3 separate regions of the Homo sapiens genome follow, and all the other regions are linked to region 3. Evidence: fine-mapped expression QTL. A gene starts in region 3. Each other region holds a variant in brackets. All regions are shown on one strand. Distances are between the middles of the regions.

The links. PIP is the estimated chance that this variant, and not a neighbour inherited with it, causes the effect.
Region 1: its variant is fine-mapped to the expression of SLC35D2 in whole blood (TOPMed, PIP above 0.99).
Region 2: its variant is fine-mapped to the expression of SLC35D2 in whole blood (TOPMed, PIP 0.97).

Annotation. Positions count from the first base shown.
Region 1 is chr9:96,342,538-96,348,566 of GRCh38, reverse strand. SLC35D2 (solute carrier family 35 member D2) reads left to right here. Exons shown (of 12, transcript NM_007001.3): 7 at 3,166-3,268; 8 at 4,571-4,663. It overlaps SLC35D2-HSD17B3 (SLC35D2-HSD17B3 readthrough), which reads left to right. Exons shown (of 26, transcript NR_182427.1): 7 at 3,166-3,268; 8 at 4,571-4,663. Among named protein-coding and RNA genes, the nearest start is that of SLC35D2, 38 kb to the left of the region's middle. RefSeq lists enhancers at 5,041-5,564, 5,565-6,029. The variant C/A (reference allele first, on the strand shown) is at 3,163.
Region 2 is chr9:96,763,926-96,769,954 of GRCh38, reverse strand. The region is part of intron 3 of ZNF510 (zinc finger protein 510); the gene reads left to right. Among named protein-coding and RNA genes, the nearest start is that of ZNF510, 11 kb to the left of the region's middle. The variant C/G (reference allele first, on the strand shown) is at 3,183.
Region 3 is chr9:96,380,356-96,386,384 of GRCh38, reverse strand. SLC35D2 (solute carrier family 35 member D2) reads left to right here and starts at 2,674. Exons shown (of 12, transcript NM_007001.3): 1 at 2,674-2,908. The coding sequence starts at 2,751. It overlaps ZNF367 (zinc finger protein 367), which reads left to right. Exons shown (of 5, transcript NM_153695.4): 5 at 1-444. SLC35D2-HSD17B3 (SLC35D2-HSD17B3 readthrough) reads left to right here and starts at 2,674. Exons shown (of 26, transcript NR_182427.1): 1 at 2,674-2,908. RefSeq lists silencers at 2,686-3,015, 3,026-3,075.

The DNA of each region.
Region 1 (6,029 bases), 38 kb after region 3:
TCCAGATGCAAGCAGTGGCAGATCAGACTGTTGGATGAGCAGGTGATGCTGCTGTAACAAACAACCTCCACACGGCAGTAGCTTCACTCACCAGATGCACCCCATCCACGCCATCCACGCTGTCCAACACTAGGCAGTGCTAGTGCGAGGGCTCTGCTCCATGTGTTCACTCAGGGATCCAGGCTGATGGAATCCCTGCCTCAGAGGGCACTTCCTTTGCCAAACAAGCAGGAAAAGGGAAGGTGGGGAATTATGCACTGGCTCTTAAAGGTTTCACCCAGAAGTGACGTGTCACCTTCTCTTACATTTTATTCAAAAACAAGTTACATGGCCAGAAAAAGTTAAAATACATCTGGGCTGGGTGTGGTAGCCCATGCCTGTAATCCTGTTACAGGAAAGGGTCCTGATCCAGACCCCAAGAGAGGGTTCTTGGATCTTGTGGAAGAAAGAATTCAGGGCGAGTCTGCAGTGCAGCGTGAAAGCAAGTTTATTAAGAAAGTAAAGGAATAAAAGAATGGCCACTCCATAGAAAGAGCAGCCCCAGAGCTGCTGGTTGCCCATTTTTAATGGTTATTTCTTGATGATTTGCTAAACAAGGGGTGGATTATTCATGTCTCCCCTTTTAGACCATATAGGGTAGCTTCCTGACATTGCCCTGGCATTTGTAAACTGTCACGGCGCTGGCGGGAGTGTAGCAGTGAGGATGACCACAGGTCACTTTTGTGGCCATTTTAGTTTCAGTGGGTTTTGGCCTATCAGCAAGGTCTTTATGATTTGTATTTTGTGCCGGCTTCCTATGTCATCCTGTGACTTAGAATGCCTTAACCGCCTGGGAATGCAGCCCAGTAGGTTTCAGCTTCATTTTACCCAGCTCCTATTTAAGATGGAGTTGCTCGGGTTCACACGCCTCTGACAATCCCAGTACTTTGGGAGGCCCAGGTGACGGGATTGCTTGAGCCCAGGAGTTCGAGACCAGCCCTGGCAACATAATGAAACCCTGTCTCTACAAAAATAAAAGTAAAAAAATTAGCCGGGCATGGTGGCACATGCCTGTAGTCCCAGCTACTCAGGAGACTGAGATGGGAGGATCGCTTGAACAACTGCAAGGGTTACATGAATCTGCTCTAATTGATTAAACAAGTAAATTCTTCAGAAATGTCTGTGCTGTCACCACTGGCCTAAACAAACAGTGGGTAAGCTGCCTGACAGTGACCCAGGCTTCCGGGAGTGGGAACAGCGCTGCTGGGAACTCTTGGTCCCCTGAGTAGGAGTTCCCCTGCAGCTCTCCCAGGAGGTGGGCAGCATCTCCCCCCATCCCCTTTCCACTCACTTGGCTCTGCTGTCTCAGGGGGCGGCAGACTCTGCTCTTCTTCACGCTGAATCACATGTGGGTAGGTAAGAAATTTGGAAGACCCTTATTTTGAAGAAAATCCTTTTGAGACAGAGTTTCGCTCTTGTTGCTCAGGCTGGAGGCACGATCTTGGCTCACCACAACCTCTGCCTCCCTGGTTCAAGTGATTCTCCTGCCTCAGCCTCCCAAGTAGCTGGGATTACAGGCATGTGCCACCACGCCCAGCTAATTTTGTATTTTTAGTAGAGATGGGATTTCTCCATGTTGGTCAGGCTGGTTTCGAACTCCCGACCTCAGGTGATCCACCCACCTTGGCCTCCCAAAGTGCTGGGATTACAGGCAGGAGCCACCACGCCTGGCCAAAAATCCTTTTTTTTTTTTTTTTAAATTGTGACTGAGGGAGAATTCTGACTTATGATGACTAAAATTAATTTCCCTTCTCACAAATATATTTGTAGATAATAATGTGTGGAGGCGTCAAGCAAAAATCCAATTTAATTTGCATTCAGATTTTGGTAGAATTTTTGCTCTGTGTTTCATTCTCTTTGGTTAGAAATAATCTTATTTTGACATTGAAGAAGATTCAGGGTATGCCACTGCAAACTGTGCCACTGTGAGATCAGGATTATTTTGAGCCGAGAAAGATTGAGAATCAACAGATCAGGAAGTTTGCTGCCTTCTCCTTTCTGCCTAAAAACCAGGGAATCAATTTCCCATTGTGAAGAGGACCGCTTCTCCCATCCCAGGAAGAGGAGAGCAATTCCTATCACTGGACGGAGGGTCGGCCCTGAGATGCATCTGCATAAACAAACCCTAAAAGAACCCTTCTCGTTCATCATTTCCACCATAGGTTTCCTAGTTACTTTCTAACAATTACACAATTTATTTGTTCCTTGAAGCCCAAATCCTCTTTCCTTTTTAAAACGTAAGTCCCCAAGTCTAACTGTTTCTTTGAGTTTCACTTCTTTTCTGTGAACTTCAGGGAACATATTAATAAGATTCGTATTCTCTTTCTCCTGTTAATCTGTCTTTTATCAGTTAAATTAGCAGGCCCCCAGACACTGAATCTAAGAGGGTACAGGAAAAGGTTTTCCTCCCTGGCAATGTGTATTTCTGAATTATGACATGGCCTAGCACTGTCTGCAACGATCAAGTGCAGGTGGGTGGGCCACATCATGGCTCAGCTATTGCTCTTCCTCTTGTTCCTGTCATAGATCCCCAAACGTATTTATGCTGGTGCTATTTATAATGGAAATGGAAGAGAAGCTGTTTCAAAAGAATGGGAAGAAAGGAGCCATAGAGGGGTCACATAGAAGGATGGATACCTGCCTTGCCATTTTGATGGACGGGGTGCGGTTTGGGCACCAGATGGAGGTGTGGCTGCCTCATGCGACCCCTCTTACCCAGCCTCTGCCCAGCTGCCCCTCACTGGCTGCACCCTGGAGGTGGCCCTGTTCACTACAATAAGCAGAGCCCCTGGGTGGATCGGGGCGAATCACTCCCCTTAGGAAAGTCAGGGCTCACCAGTTATTATGTGGATTCATCAGCTAGCGAAAGAAAGGGGTTGCAGTTGAAGGAAGATGCTTAATGTCGCTCTGGTTTTAAGCCATTCACGATTGAGTCGAAGCCATCTGATGGGCTGGTTTGGTTTTTGTCTGGAGGCAAAGCAGAGGAATTAATCATTCACTACCACAAAGCGGGGAAAGTGTGCCACAGAAAAGTGGGTTTGATTAGGGAAAGGTAGATCAGGCGGGCTTGGAGGCCAAGTTGTGAGTTTTTGAGTAATCATTCTCCCTTTGTGGTCTCCCTCC[C/A]AGGTCTGACCTTGCTTTTAACTTAGAAGGCTATATTTTTGTATTCCTGAATGATATCTTCACAGCAGCAAATGGAGTTTATACCAAACAGAAAATGGACCCAAAGGTACCAGACCTTGCCTATGGCTTTTTGGCTCTGTCATCTGGCCCCTAGAATTATATGAAAAATGAAAATGAATGTGTACAGTTGGAATGTAATTTAATTTATATAATATGACCTGTAAATTCCTTATTTTCAATTATCTTGTCTGTATAAGTTATTATTTGCGAAATTTTGGGTGAAAATGAGATATGATGGGAAAAGCCACTAGTTTAGATGCACACTCAGAACATATAAAAAGGGATTATTCTGAAAGGCAAATTAATTTTTTTACCAGCATCATCAATCACCAAGGCAAGGTCAGGGGTCACGATATTTGTTCAGAGAGCGCTAGTTTGGAGTCTGGAGATGTGGGCTACAGACACAAGTTTTTCTACTTACTGACTGTTGTGACTTTGAACCTTAACTTCTCCAAACTTCAGTTTCCTTATCTGTGGAATGAAATGACTGCAATGGATAATTTGTAAGGTCTTGTCCAGCAATAGCTGCTGCTTCTGATGATGAGGGGTGGGGCAGAGGAGCTTTGCTTTTGTGTGGCTGCCTGTCACGTGGAGGCCCCATCCCTCCCCCTCCCCCATCCCTCCCCCACCCCCAGCTGTTACAAGGAAGCCCGGAGGATGAGTCAGGCATATGTTTCTTTGTTCCAAGCTCTTTGTGCTGGATGAGGGAGTTCACTCTGACCAACAGGCTTATTTCCATGAGCTATTTTTTTTAATCTGCTCTTTTTTTTTTTTTTTTATCTGCTCTGTTTTTTTTTTTTTTCCCCTGCATGGCCTTTTTTTTTTTTTTTTTTTTAACGGTAGAAGTTTTGCAAAAACAGGTTTGTTGTCTTTTGAGGATCACAATATGTCATCCTTTTTTGAAAATGGTGAAGTGGTGTGGCCACTTTAATGAAAGTAAATATATGATGCTGCTGTCCTTTAATGGAAAGAGCAGATGTTTTTAAAGAGTTTTGTTTATATTAACATTTTTAATGTTCTTTATTTTGTTCCAGATTTCCCATTTTGAATTACATGCTTTAAAAAAAACCCCACATAATTAGAATGCTGGAGATGAATGGAACCCTAGAGGCTTCCCACTGCCATGCGTTTTCTCTGTAGTTTTGGTGTAAAACAAATGTTTATTCCAAAATCTCAGTACCCTCAAACCAAAGCATTTTATGTCAGAAATTTGCTGAAAATATTCCAAAAGAGTTGCTCAGAATGCACATTCTAACTTCGCATGAATATGCAGTTGTATAAATGGCTCCAGGAAATCTGTGCCTCACGTTTCTGAAACTGAGTGGTTTTTACATTTTTGTTTTTGCAGGAGCTAGGGAAATACGGAGTACTTTTCTACAATGCCTGCTTCATGATTATCCCAACTCTTATTATTAGTGTCTCCACTGGAGACCTGCAACAGGTGAGCTGATGACAATCATTACAGTTTTCCTTAGCTGGCTTTAAAAAATTTAATATTTAACATTTGATATGCACTGAAACAAAAAGTGTAAAGTTAGCTAGGACTACCAGGAGGGTACATGATAACAAGATGTTTGATATCCCTAGTAACACCTTTTGGCACTACCCTTGCATTGGCATTTATCCTTAGCCACATATCAAGGAGAGCCAAGAACTCTGGACTTGGTACTTTTTGGAAAACAACAATACAAATCTGAGTTTGAATTCCATATCCCCCTTTGCTAATGTGGGGACCCTGGGAGAGCTACTTACCCTAGAAGGGGATTTTGATCATTTTAAAACATAGGTTTGTTTATTTATTTGTTACTTTCTATTACGGACATTTTGAAACATGCACAAAATAGAGTAATTCAATGAGTTGTCAGGGACCCACCACCTAGCTTCAACACTTTGGCATTTTGCCATCTTATTTTATCTGTCCTCATCCATCCCCAGCTTTTTGTTCCTCTGGAGTATTTTAAAACCTATCCCAGCCATCACGCCATTTTACCTCTAAATATTCCAGGATCCACATTTGAATTTTGGGAAGGTGTTGTTCTTTCAGCATTTGCCCTGAAACCGTATCTGCTGCTGGTGAGAGACAAATAAAATGGTAAATTAGTGGTAAGATCTGAGGCCCAGTGGAGCGGTGGAGGCCAAGTCTCTCAGGACGTGTGGACATTCTCCATAGTGACAGCTCCAGTGGCCACCCCGAAGGGTGCAAGCCCGGACTTCTTCAGGAAGTCGCGGGCCACACAGCCTCTGAGAACTTTGCTGATGTGTAAGTGACTGTGAGAAACGAGATGCGATGGGCAAAACCCTCCTCAGCGGGACCTCCACCCACAGACTCGACTCCGGACACAGCCCTGACCAGCCAGGCGATAACCCCGTCATTGCTGGCCTGGGGCTGGGGCAGCACCCATTTACCCATGGACAGGACAGTGTTTCCATATTTAGCAATCAGCATGGGTGTATGTTGCCCACCAGTTGAAAGTCAATCCCATTTGCAGCTCTTTTAGGGTCTGAGTGACTCTGAAAGGCTGCAGGCTGCTGTGGACTCCTGGGCAGCTCCTTGTTCTTTCTCCAGCTGGACTTTCTCACTTGTCCAATTCTCTTCCCAGAAGGAGGGATCAGCAGAAGGGCTTAGCAACCTCGTCCCCGGGCACAAACAGCCATTTCCACGGGTTTATATGGAAAACTACCAAGTGGCACCAATCTCGATAAAGAGCTCTCTTTTTCGGGTTATTTAGAACGTTGTGAACCTGAGCCTCCCTGTTAATTCCGTTTTGGAAGATAAAGCGGGCACCTGCACCTCTCTAGTAAGAATG
Region 2 (6,029 bases), 380 kb before region 3:
TTAGGGTTCCACTTTCTCCACATCATTAAAACCACTTGTTATTTTCCCTTTTTTTAAAATTATGGACATCCTAGTGGGTGTGAAGTGGTATCATTTAACTTTGATTTGCATTTCCTTGATTAATGACATTCAACATCTTTTCATGCGCTTATTGGCTATTTGTTTATCATCTTTGGAGAAATGTCTATCCAAGTCCTTTGCCCATTTTGGATTACATTTTTTGTTGTTCAGTTATAAGAGTTCTTTATGTATTCTGGCTACTAGACATTTATTAAATGTAGTATTTGTGAATATTTTCTCCTATTCTGTAGGTTCTTTTCACTATCTTGATGGTATCCTTTGCACAAAAGTTTAATTGTGATGAAGTCCAATTTTTTTTTCTTTGGTATCATATCCAGGAAGTCATTGCCAAATCCAAGGTCATAAAGGTTTACTCCTGATTTCATCTAAGAGTCATGCAGTTAAACTCTTATATTTAGGTCTTTGATCCCTTTTAAGGCCAATTTTTTTTTTTTTTGGAGACGGAATCTTTGTCTGTTGCCCAGGCTGGAATCCAGTGGCACGATCTTGGCTCACTGCAACGTCCTTCTCCTGGGTTCAAGTGATTCTCCCACCTCAGCCTTCCGAGTAGCTGGAATTACAGGCATGCACCACAATGCCCGGGTAATTTTTATATTTTTTCAGTAGAGACGGAGTTTCACCATGTTGACCAGGCTGGTCATGAACTCCTGATCTCAAGTGATCTGTCTGCCTCAGCCTCCTAAAGTGCTGGGATTACAGGTGTGAGGCACCACACCTGGCTGTTTTGAGGCAATTTTAAAATACAGTATAAGGTAGGAGTCCAGCTTCATTATTTTGATGAGATTCAGTTATCCCAGCATCATCTGTTGAAAACTATTTTTTTCCTAATAAATGGCCAATGTATGGGTTTATTTCTGGGCTCTCAGTGCTATTCTGTGGATCTGTATGTCTGTATTTATGCCAGTACCACACTCTCTTGATTACTGTTGCTTTATAATAAGTTTTTAAATCAGGAAATGTAATCCCTCCAATTTTTTTTCTTTTTTTTCTAGATTGTTTTGACTATTCAGGGTCCCTTGCAATTTCATATAAATTGTAGGTTCAACATTTCTGCAGAAAGGTCATTAGGATTTTGATATAGATTTCACTGAATCTGTATATCACTTTTGGGAGTATTGTCATCTTAACAATTTTAAATCTTCCAATTCATGAACACAAGGTGTCTTTCCATTTATTTGGGTCCTCTGATTTCTTCTAGCAGTGTTTTCTAGTGTTCACGTATAAGTCATGTACCTTCTTGGTTAAATTTATTCCTATTTTATTATTTTTTGTTCTATTGTAAGTGGAATTGTTTTCTTTTTTATTATTCATTGCTAGTATTTAGAGAGATAAATGATTCTTGTGTGTTCATCTTGTATCCTACAATTTTGATGAATTCATTTATTGGCTCTAATAGTTTTTTGTGGCTTCCTTAGTCTTTTCCATGTATTAAATCTCATGGTCTCTGAGAATAGAGATAGTTTTACTTTTTTCTTTCCAATTTGGATGCATTTTTGTCTTACCTATTTCCTCTAGCTAGAACTTCCAGTATAATGAATAGAAATGATGAAAGCAGGCATCCCTGTCTTATTCCTGATATTTGGAAGAAACCTTCTTGTTTTTTAGCCTAGCGTATTCTGTTAGCTGTGGTTTTTCAGAAATGCTTTTTATTGTGTTGCAGCAGTTCTATTCTAGTCCTACCATGTTAAATGTTTGTTTTTATCATGAAAGGATATTTTTGTCAAATGCTTTTTCTGCATCAGTTGAGATGATCGTGTGACTTGTTTTCTTCATTTTATTATTGTGATATATTACACTGATTTATTTTCTTATGGTGAGCCACCTTGCATTCCTGGAAATAAATTGTACTTGGTCATGGTATATAGTACTTTTTATTTGTTGCAAGATTTGGTTTGCGAGTATTTTGTTGAAAACTTCTGCACACATATTCAGAAGGGATACATATCATAGTTTTTGGGTGATTTTTTTATCTGGCTTTGGTTCAAGGTAACTCATAGAATGAGTTAGGAAATGTTCACTCATCTTCTATTTTTGGAAGAATTAGAGAAGGATTGGTGTTAGTTTTTCTTTAAATGTTTGGTAGAATTCACCAAACATTTAAAGACAGACTGACAGTTGGTCTTGAGCCTTTCTTTGTTGGGAGGATTTGGATTACTGATTCAGTCTTATATCAGTCTGTTCGGATGTTCTGTTTCTTTTTGAGTCCATTTTGGTGGTTTGTGTGTTTCTAGGAATTTGTCCACTTCATCTTGGTTATGTAATTTGTTGCTATACAGTTCACTGTATTCTTTATTATAGTCTTTTTTATTTTGTAAGGTTAGTAGTAAGGTCCCCACCTCATTTAGTTCCTTAAAGTATACAATTAGGATACTGATTTGGGATCATTTTTAATATAGGTGTTACAGCTATAAATTTCACACTTAGCACTGCCTTAGCTGCATCTCATGCATTTTGGTATTTTGTGTATTCATTGTGAGTAATCTCAATGTATTTTCTAATTTCTGGGTCTCAGGGGTTTGTTTTGTTTTGTTTTGTTTTGTTTTTTTGAGACAGAGTCTCGCTCTATCACCCAGGCTGGAGTGTAGTGGCACGATATCAGCTCACTGCAACCTCCACCTCCCGGGTTCAAGCAATTCTCCTGCCTCAGACACCCGAGTAGCTGGGATTATGGGCACGCACCACCACACCTGGCTAATTTTTCTATTTTTAGTAGAGACAGGGTTTCACCATGTTGGCTAGGCTGGTCTCGAACTCCTGACCTCAAGTGATTCGCCTGCCTCAGCCTCCCAAAGTGCTGGAATTATAGGCGTGAACCACCATGCCCAGCCTCATTTCTCTTTTGATTTTCCCTTTGATCCTGTAGCGAGGTGAAAATCCACCTATGTGTATGGCCCCCAGGGACTTCACACACTCAAACTAGTACACATTTGCCTTTAGCAGGTTAAATTTTTCTAGTTTTATCTTCCTAATTGTATTAGATGGAGTTGAGTAGCATCTGCTCCAGTAAGCAAATGAGCACATCCTGATTCTCCCTGCAGGTGCCTGTCTCGTCTCTCTCTCTCCTAATAGTTTGAAAAAAAGATACTAATTTTCTGTTTTCC[C/G]AGCTATGTTCTTGTAAGGATGTTAGCGTTGCTTTTATCAGCTCTCTACATCTCTAAGCTAAGATCTAAAGCTACGCTGTATGATTGTAATTTTTTGTAATTTAGTGAGATAGACTGTCCTTTTTTTTTAATGTGCAAAGGAAACCAGAGAGTTATGTTATGCAGAGGTTATCCTATATATGTCAGTCAGGTTGGTTAATTATGTCTTTTCAATCTTCTATATCAGTGGTCAGAAAACTTTCTGTAAATGTCAGATAGTAGCCTTTGTGAGAGATACAGTCTCTGTTGCATCTACCAAACTCTGCAGCTGTAGTGTTAAGCAGCCATAGATAATACATAAACAAATGAATGTGGCTGTGTTCCAAGAAAACTTTATTTACAAAAAAAAAAAATTGGTAGTGGTGGTATTTTTCATTTACAAAAAAAAAAAAATAGTAGTGGTGAGCTGGATTTGACCTTTGTGCTGTAGTTCACTGACTCCTGTTCTATATCCCTGTTGGTTTTTCTTAATCTGCTTTTCTATGAGTTACTGGGAGAGTTACATTAAAATCACTAATTAAAATTGTAGATTGATATCTCATTTCTATCAACTTTTGTTTATATACAGTCAGTTCTCATAATTCTCAGTAGTAATGTTCCAAAAAGTCACTACAAACACTGAACTAATAAATACTGAACCATTACTCAGAGGAGAAATATGGGGTTAAGCCTCTAGTCACATTTTTGTCAGCCAGTCAGTACATAATCTTTTTGTGTGTCTTTCTGCATAAAGACACCTTATTTAATATTGTTGGTTTATAATGATTGAACTAATGGCCAACAACACCATAACTAATGCCTGAATGAATCTTATCTAACATAGATATTTTCTCCATGAGCCATACCACAGGCTTCTTGCACATAGGCACACTAGACAGCACATAACTGTTATACATATAGGCCATTTAAAAAGTGAAATCATCGGCCAGGCGCAGTGGCTCACGTCTGTAATCCCAGCACTTTGGGAGGCCGAGGTGGGTGGATCACGAGGTCAGGAGATGGAGACCATCATGGCCAACATGGTGAAACCCCATCTCTACTAAAAATACAAAAATTAGCTGGGCGTGGTGGCACGTGCCTGTAGTCCCAACTACTCAGGAGGCTGAGGCAGGATAATTGCTTGAACCTGGGAGGCGGGGGTTGCAGTGAGCCGAGATCACATCACTGCACTCCAGCCTGGCAACAGAGCAAGACTCTGTCTCAAAAAAAAAAAAGAAAAAGTGAAATCATCAAGAAAAAGCACAAAAATGCAGTAAATATGGCACTAAATAGACTGAGAAGTGGACACTTATTTACAGTATCAGAGCTGAAACAAGAAAGCAGATCACCTTGTTGAGCCTCATCTGGGAACATGTAGGTCAGGCAATTCAAATTTTTTACCTTCCTGTACATGTCCACAAATGACTGCAAAATAACTGCAAGTGTTGATTTTGAGGTTGCAAATAATTTTAGTGTGTGAATTTACAAATACGTAATCCGTGAATAATAAGAAATGCTAATTGGACGCTATGTTTGCCAGGTGCATAGCAATTTTGATTTGTTGTATCTTCTATTGAAAGGACTGTTTTGTCATTACAAATCGTTACTCAGTTTTTTGTTGTTGTTGTTGTTGTTGTTTTTTATACAAGAATCTCACTCTGTCACCCAGGCTGGAGTGCAGTGGCGCGATCTCAGCTCACTGCAACCTCCGCCTCCCAGGTCCAAACGATTCTCCTGCCTCAGCCTCCTGAGTAGCTAGGATTACAGGCACTCACCACCACACCCGGCTAATTTTTGTATTTTTAATAGAGATGGGGTTTCACCACGTTGGTCAGGCTGGTCTCAAACTCCTGACCTCGTGATCCGCCTGCCTCGGCCTCCCAAAGTGCTAGGATTACAGGCATGAGCCACCGCACCCGGCCCGTTACTCATTTTTTATACCTCTTTCTTACCTTAAAGTCTACTGTATATGATAGTAATGCAGTCATATCAACTATCTTTTGGTTTTGATTATATGGTATATCTTTTTCCATCCTTTTACTTTCAATCTCCATAATCCCTATATATATAATGTTTCCTTTGTTGTTGTATTATACTTTATCTTTTCTTTAATACTATTATTTAGTCCAGAGAATGGTACATTTTTTTCTATAAAGGCAAGTAATAAATATTTTCAGTTTTGACAATCATAAGGTCTCTGATGGAACTTCTCAGTGCTATTTCAGCACAAAAACAGCCATAAACAATGCAACATGATTGGGTGTGCCTGTGTGCCAACTGACTTTATTTAAAAAGCGGTAAGTGGCCAGGTACAGTGACTCACACTTATAATCCCAGAGCTTTTGGAGGCCAAGGTGGGAGGATCACTTGAGGCCAGGAGTTCAAGATTAGCCTAGGCAACATAGCAAGACACTGTCTTTACCACACATACACAAAAAACTGGCAAGCCAGATTTGGCCCAAAGGCCATAATTTGCTGACTCCTGCCATGATGTATGCCCAGGGTAGTCTGTTGGGATGGAATACAAATTGTAGGAAGTTTATTTACATTTTTTGGCTACAAAAATAAGAATAAAAAAAAAGTTTTAGTAATGTATCTATTTATAGTATATGTATATAACTCATAAATATATATAGATCATTTATAAACATTTTCTTTGAGACAAGGTCTTGCTCTGTCACCAAGGCTGGTATACAGTGGTGTGATCATGGCTCATTGCAGCCTCAACCACCTGGGCTCAAGCAATCCTTCTGCCTCAGCCTCCCAAGTAGCTGGGACTACAGGCACATACCACCATACCTGGCTAATTTTTTAAATTTTTTGTAGAGA
Region 3 (6,029 bases):
TTGATCAACTTAACTAAAGAAGGAAGGGTAGTAAGAATTTTTCAAATACAAATATTTGCCAATTCACAGATGATAACATTTAAGGCCTTCAAAAGTAAGGGTTTTTCCTTGTTTCTCCAGTCAGCTTTTGTCAACTCTAATAGTTTTTTCATAAACATTTTTTATTTGTATAATTGCAACAGTTTAAGAAATTATCACAACTATTTAGAAACATTTAAAATGTTCTTTTTGATATAAGCTATATACTTGGAAAAATACATTGGTATCTAAAATTTGAGGTGTGTTAAGACTGCTTTTTGTTTTAAAAAATGGTTTACATTCAAATTTTTGAAGTGTTTTATGCTTCATATGGCTAAGTTGTAGTTTGGCAGAGTTAACAGCATAAGAATAAACATGCTGTAATTTTAAAAGATGCTTTGAATAAAAATTTATTTTAATTTAAAATTTAAAGTACACGGTCATTCTTAAAGCCTTTATCATTTGTTTTCCTATCGAAAATATAATAACCATGATATAAAAAAATTTAAAAGATAGAAACATCACCTACAGCCTTATGTTCAGCCATCAGTATTATTTCAGTACATGTTTGCGTAGTTGTAAGTACAGTGTGGATTGCTTTTTCTTACTTTAATTATGGCTTTTAAGGTTATAGATATTTAACTTCCTCATCGGGTTCATTACTACAGTGTTAAAAATATACTGCTGTGGATAAGTATTGAACTATTGCCACCCCATTTCCAGGCCTTAAATTAGGGTAATAAGGAAAAGGGATTTCATTTCACTTACATTTAGGATGGGTTGTCTCTGGGGTCAGCTCCTCAAGAATCCATTTAAAGCCTGTGTACTTTTCTAAGAGTCTAGCAAATTGGTTTTCTTTTTTCATCAGTTATTTTTGGTAGATCTTTAGTTGTGTATTTGCAGTGGCAAGGGTCAGCCTGTCCTACCCTTGTGCAGAAGAATATCACAAGCAACTCCTTAGTGTGAGTTGCTGTTTAAACAGGGTAAGGATGGGATTTTGACAGCGAGGTAAGGTCCTGGAAGTATGTGTATACAATCAAACTAAATGCAATTATGATGAAGGTCATCATTAAAAATAACTTTAAAATATTCTTTTTGCAGTCAAAACATTTGGAGACTCACAAGAAAATTGAATGTTCTGAGGAAATTAACCAAAATGACCGATTTCCTGTTTAACTTGAATATGGATTCATTTTCTCTTTTAAAACGGACTTAACATGTCTTTTCTTTCTTGTTTTGGGTAACTTGGGCACTTCTGGTCTTTTTAATGCTAGCTAATTTTCACGAGTTCTGCTTTAGTTCTTATCAGGGCTGAAAATGTTTCCCAGTTTTCATTCTCCTGGTTGTTTAGTGCCTAAGGGTAGAAAAACAATTCTCTGGGCATCTATATAGTTAGGCCCCAACTTTTATTTAACTTGAAATCTTAAGCTTTTCTAAGAAGCTAAAAGTTCATATATATATATATATATAATATACATTATATATTAAATATATAATATATATATTTTTGAGACGGAGGCTTGCTCTGTCGCCCAGGCTGGAGTGCAGTGGCGCGATCTCGCCTCACTGCAAGCTCTGCCTCCCGGGTTCACGCCATTCTCCTGCCTCAGCCTCCTGAGTAGCTGGGACTACAGGCGCCCGCCACCACGCCCGGCTAATTTTTTTTGTATCTTTAGTAGAGACGGGGTTTCACCGTGTTAGCCAGGATGGTCTCGATCTCCTGACCTCGTGATCTGCCCGCCTCGGTCTCCCAAAGTGCTGGGATTACATGTGTGAGCCACCGCGCCTGGCCAAAAGTTCATATTTTTTAAAGACTGACAAGGGTAGGCGGTTCTGGGAAGCTGTCCTTCAACTGACCTGACCCGAAGGCAAACGGCCCTCCGCGAGGAATGCACCTACCACAAAGCACCCAGAGGACACCCAAGTCCCAAGGCTTCACCCACCTTACTCCTAGCCACTCCACTCCTAGATATTTATTTAAGAGAAATGAAGACACAGGTCCCACAAACGCCCACGAATTTTCATGGAAGCATTTTTCCTAATGGTCCTAAACTGGAAACAACCAATGGATACACAATTTGTGATACTATTCAACGATTAAACAAACCACATGGTCGAGTCCAAAGCATAGAGTGAAAACCCCTGAGACCACATGCTCATTCATAAATTCTAGAAAGCACCCTGTTTATTTGAAATTCCGGAAAAGGCAAACCTAACCTACAGCAATAGTCATCGATGAGATGCGGGCGTTAACTTCAAAGGGGCAGCAAGGGGAATTTTTGGGGCGATGGAAATGTTGTTTTGAGTAGTTACTCCTGTGGATGCCTTTGTCGAAGCTCATCTCAAACTATGGACTGGCAAGATGTGTACACTTCATTGTATGTAAATTATACACTAAACAAAAAAGTTGTAGGGAAAAAAAAAAAAAAGCAAAACAAGCCCTGAGACTTACTGAAGCGTTTCTTTCCAGGAAAGCCTGGAGGAAGGCAGCGCTTTTCAACTCCCCAGCGCATTGCCGGCCCTGGAGACCGAAGGAGGTGCCTGGAACCAGGGTGAAGTCCAGCGCGCAGGGTCCTCCCGCGCCGGCCTCGGGCGCTCGCAGGGGGCGGGTCGGGACCTGGGATTGCGCCGGGCTCTTCCTGTTCCTGCCGCGCCCTCTTCCCCGGCCCGGCCGGGCGGGACCAGTGCGCAGCCGGGGCTGGCGGGCGGCGGGGTCCGCGGGGCCGCAGGAGATGACGGCCGGCGGCCAGGCCGAGGCCGAGGGCGCTGGCGGGGAGCCCGGCGCGGCGCGGCTGCCCTCGCGGGTGGCCCGGCTGCTGTCGGCGCTCTTCTACGGGACCTGCTCCTTCCTCATCGTGCTTGTCAACAAGGCGCTGCTGACCACCTACGGGTGAGGCGGGGCCCGGGGCCGGGGGGTCTGCGGGAGTGCGGGGCTGCCCCTGTCCTCCGTGCGCTTCAGCGGCGCCCGGGACAGGGCGGGTGGGGACAGGGACCCTCGAGTCTCAGCTGGGCACATTGGTCGAGTTTCCCAGGCGCCCTCCAGAACTCGCTCAGCTTTCTACACTCAGGCCACAACCTGAGAAAGTCGTTCTCTTCCTGAGCGCGCCTGCCCTGCTGCGAGGCGCCCTGTCCTAGGTGGGCTGGTAGAGCTCAGACAGATTCTTTCATACACCCAGCGAGCTGAAAACAGGGATTCAAATGCCTGCTTCAAAGGACGCAATTCCTTACACAGATCTCCATGTTCAACGGTCAGGTACTCCTGAGCCAGTAAGTCTGTATTGATTGACTGTTCATTCTCAGATGACCAGCGTGTTCATGGAAAACTCGGGAAAACAATTGGAAGTTCATATGGAGTACTTTTTTGGATTAGTGTGAAGTAAACGCAAATTTGTGCTGCCTTGAACCTATTTGTAAGGACTAGAAAATCCTGCTTAATTCTGCTACCATTGTAGCGGCACTGAGAAAATTGTGGATTTAGACCCAGCTCCACCGGTTAACACCTGTCTTTTTGGACCAGTCTCACAGTCAGCAATTTTTTTCAGATGCAAAAAACCTGAATGATTACAATCGTGTTAATTACCCTCCAGGGCTCTGCACGAGCTGTTATATGTGAAGGCTCTTTGTAAACTCTACTATGTTACAAGAATATGCCATCAACATTTTAGAGCCCAAAGAGACCTAGAGTGTCTTAGTTAGAGAGTATCTTAGAGTATCAGCTTTCTTTTTTTATATATACATACAGATTCAGCTTATGTGGGTCTCACTTTTCTCGAATATAAAATACGAAAGCTGAGGCTGGCTGAGGTGGTTTGCACCTGTAATCACAGCATTTGGGAGGCCAAGGCAGGCATATATATATATATATATATAGTGTGTGTGTGTGTGTGTGTGTGTGTGTGTATAATATTTTTTTGAGACAAGGTTTCACTCTGTTGCCTAGGCTGGAGTGTAGTGACACAATCATGACTCACTGCAGCCTCGACCATCTGGGTTCAAGCAATCCTTCTGCTGCAGCCTCCAGAGAAGCTGGGACCATAGGTGTGCACCACTGCACCGGCAATTTTTTTGATTTTTTGTAGAGGTGGGGTCTCAGTGTGTTTCCAAGGCTGGTCTAGGCCTGCTTTGGCCTCCCAAAGTGCTGTGATTACAGGTGCAAACTATCTCATCCAGCCTCACCTTTCTTATTTTATATTCGAGAAAACTGAGGCCCACATAAGCTCGATTGGTTGTACCTCCAACAGATATTTATTAAGCACCTACTAAATACTGAGCCCATTGCAAGCACCAGGGAAGCCTCTGTGAACAGCACAAGGTCCCTGCTCTGGAGATTCTGCTTCAGTGGTGGAGACAGAAAATAAACAGGTAGGTTCATGAATAAACGAGACACTTTCAGATCTGATGTGAGAGTGCCTGGGCTGGAGTAGCTGTCACAGAGCATTCCAGGTAGAAGTGAGCAGCAAGTGTACAATGTGCTGAAGTGGGCATGAGCTTGGCTGCTGGAGGAACAGAGAGAAGATCACTGTGCCTGGGCGGGGAGGTAGGCAGGGAAGGCAGGAGTCAGCTCTTTCTCTCATTTTTGATAGCTTTCACTAAGCACTTGTGATGTACCAGCACTGTTCGAGGAGAACAGTGTTTTCCCACCGTTCTTGGGAAAGAGAAGTGAAAAGAGCAGATCAGAATCCTTAACTTCACGGAGCTGCATCCTTGTGGACCAATAAATGAGCCAGTAACATTTACATTATGTCAGATGTGACCAAGGTGCTGGGGAAAAAATAAAACAGGAAAGGGAGTGAGGGAGAGAGGGAGGGGAGAGTATGCAGTGTGAGCGTGATCAGTGGAGCCTCAGAAGGAGGTGGCATTGGAGCCAAGACCAGAGTGAGGTGGGGACATAAGCCACACTGGGGGACGGGGGAAGAGCATTCCAGGCCTGGAGGAGTGAAGAGTTTGAATGGGAATGGTAGCAGATGGGGTCTGAGAGTAATGGATTGCTGGCCTGTGTGGGGCCTTGGGAGGCCACCGCCAGGGCTCTGGCATCAGCTCTGAATGAGATGGGAGCCACGCAAGGTGTCAGGCAGGGGAATTACATGATCTAAATCACTGTGGCTGCTGTGTTGAGAGCCGACATCTGGGGACCAGGGTGGAAGGATGAGACTGGATAAATAGTTGTAGTTTCATGCTAAATGCAATTAGAAGTCCCTTGGAAGGTTTTGACATGGGAGTGACCTGACACAATTTGTGTGATTAAAAAGATCTCTCTGGCTGGCAGGCGGGTGGAGAACTGACAGTACTGGCATCAGGGAGAGGGGCTGGAAGCCACTGCAGGGCTGCAGGTAAAGACGGCGTGGACTGGGCAGGGCATAGCAGCGGAGGTAAAAGGAAGGGATGGATTTGGGATATTTTTTGGTGATCCTGTGGCCGTCAGTATTCTTGGCAAGGTCTCTCCAGTGTGTTGCAGCCTGCTGCCTGGTGTCCATGGAAAACACAGCCCTGCCTCAAGGAAATGAACATGGACATACTGTACCTAAACCTGGAGCATTTGACATGGAAGCTAATGAAGGAAAAAGAAAACTTAAACACTTAGGATAAAAAAAAAAGGCCGGGCGCGGTGGCTCACACCTGTAATCCCAGCACTTCGGGAGCCTGAGGTGGGCAGATCATGAGGTCAGGATTTCGAGACCAGCCTGGCCAGCATGGTGAAACCCTGTCTCTACTAAAAATACAAAAAAAACAAACAAAAAAAAACTAGCTGGGCATGGTGGTGCACGCCTATAATCCCAGCTACTTGGGAGGCTGAGTCAGGAGAATCACTTGAACTCAGGAGGCAGTGGTTGCAGTGAGCTGAGATCACACCACTGCACTCCAGCCTGGGCGATAGAGTGAGACTCAGTCTCAAAAAAAAAAAAGAAAAAATACCAGAAAATGAAAATGCTATTGATGGGCTTGTTTGGGAGTGGCCAGTCATTATGTCAATGATGGTTGAAGATAAGTCTTCATTTTGTGCACCTGAGTGA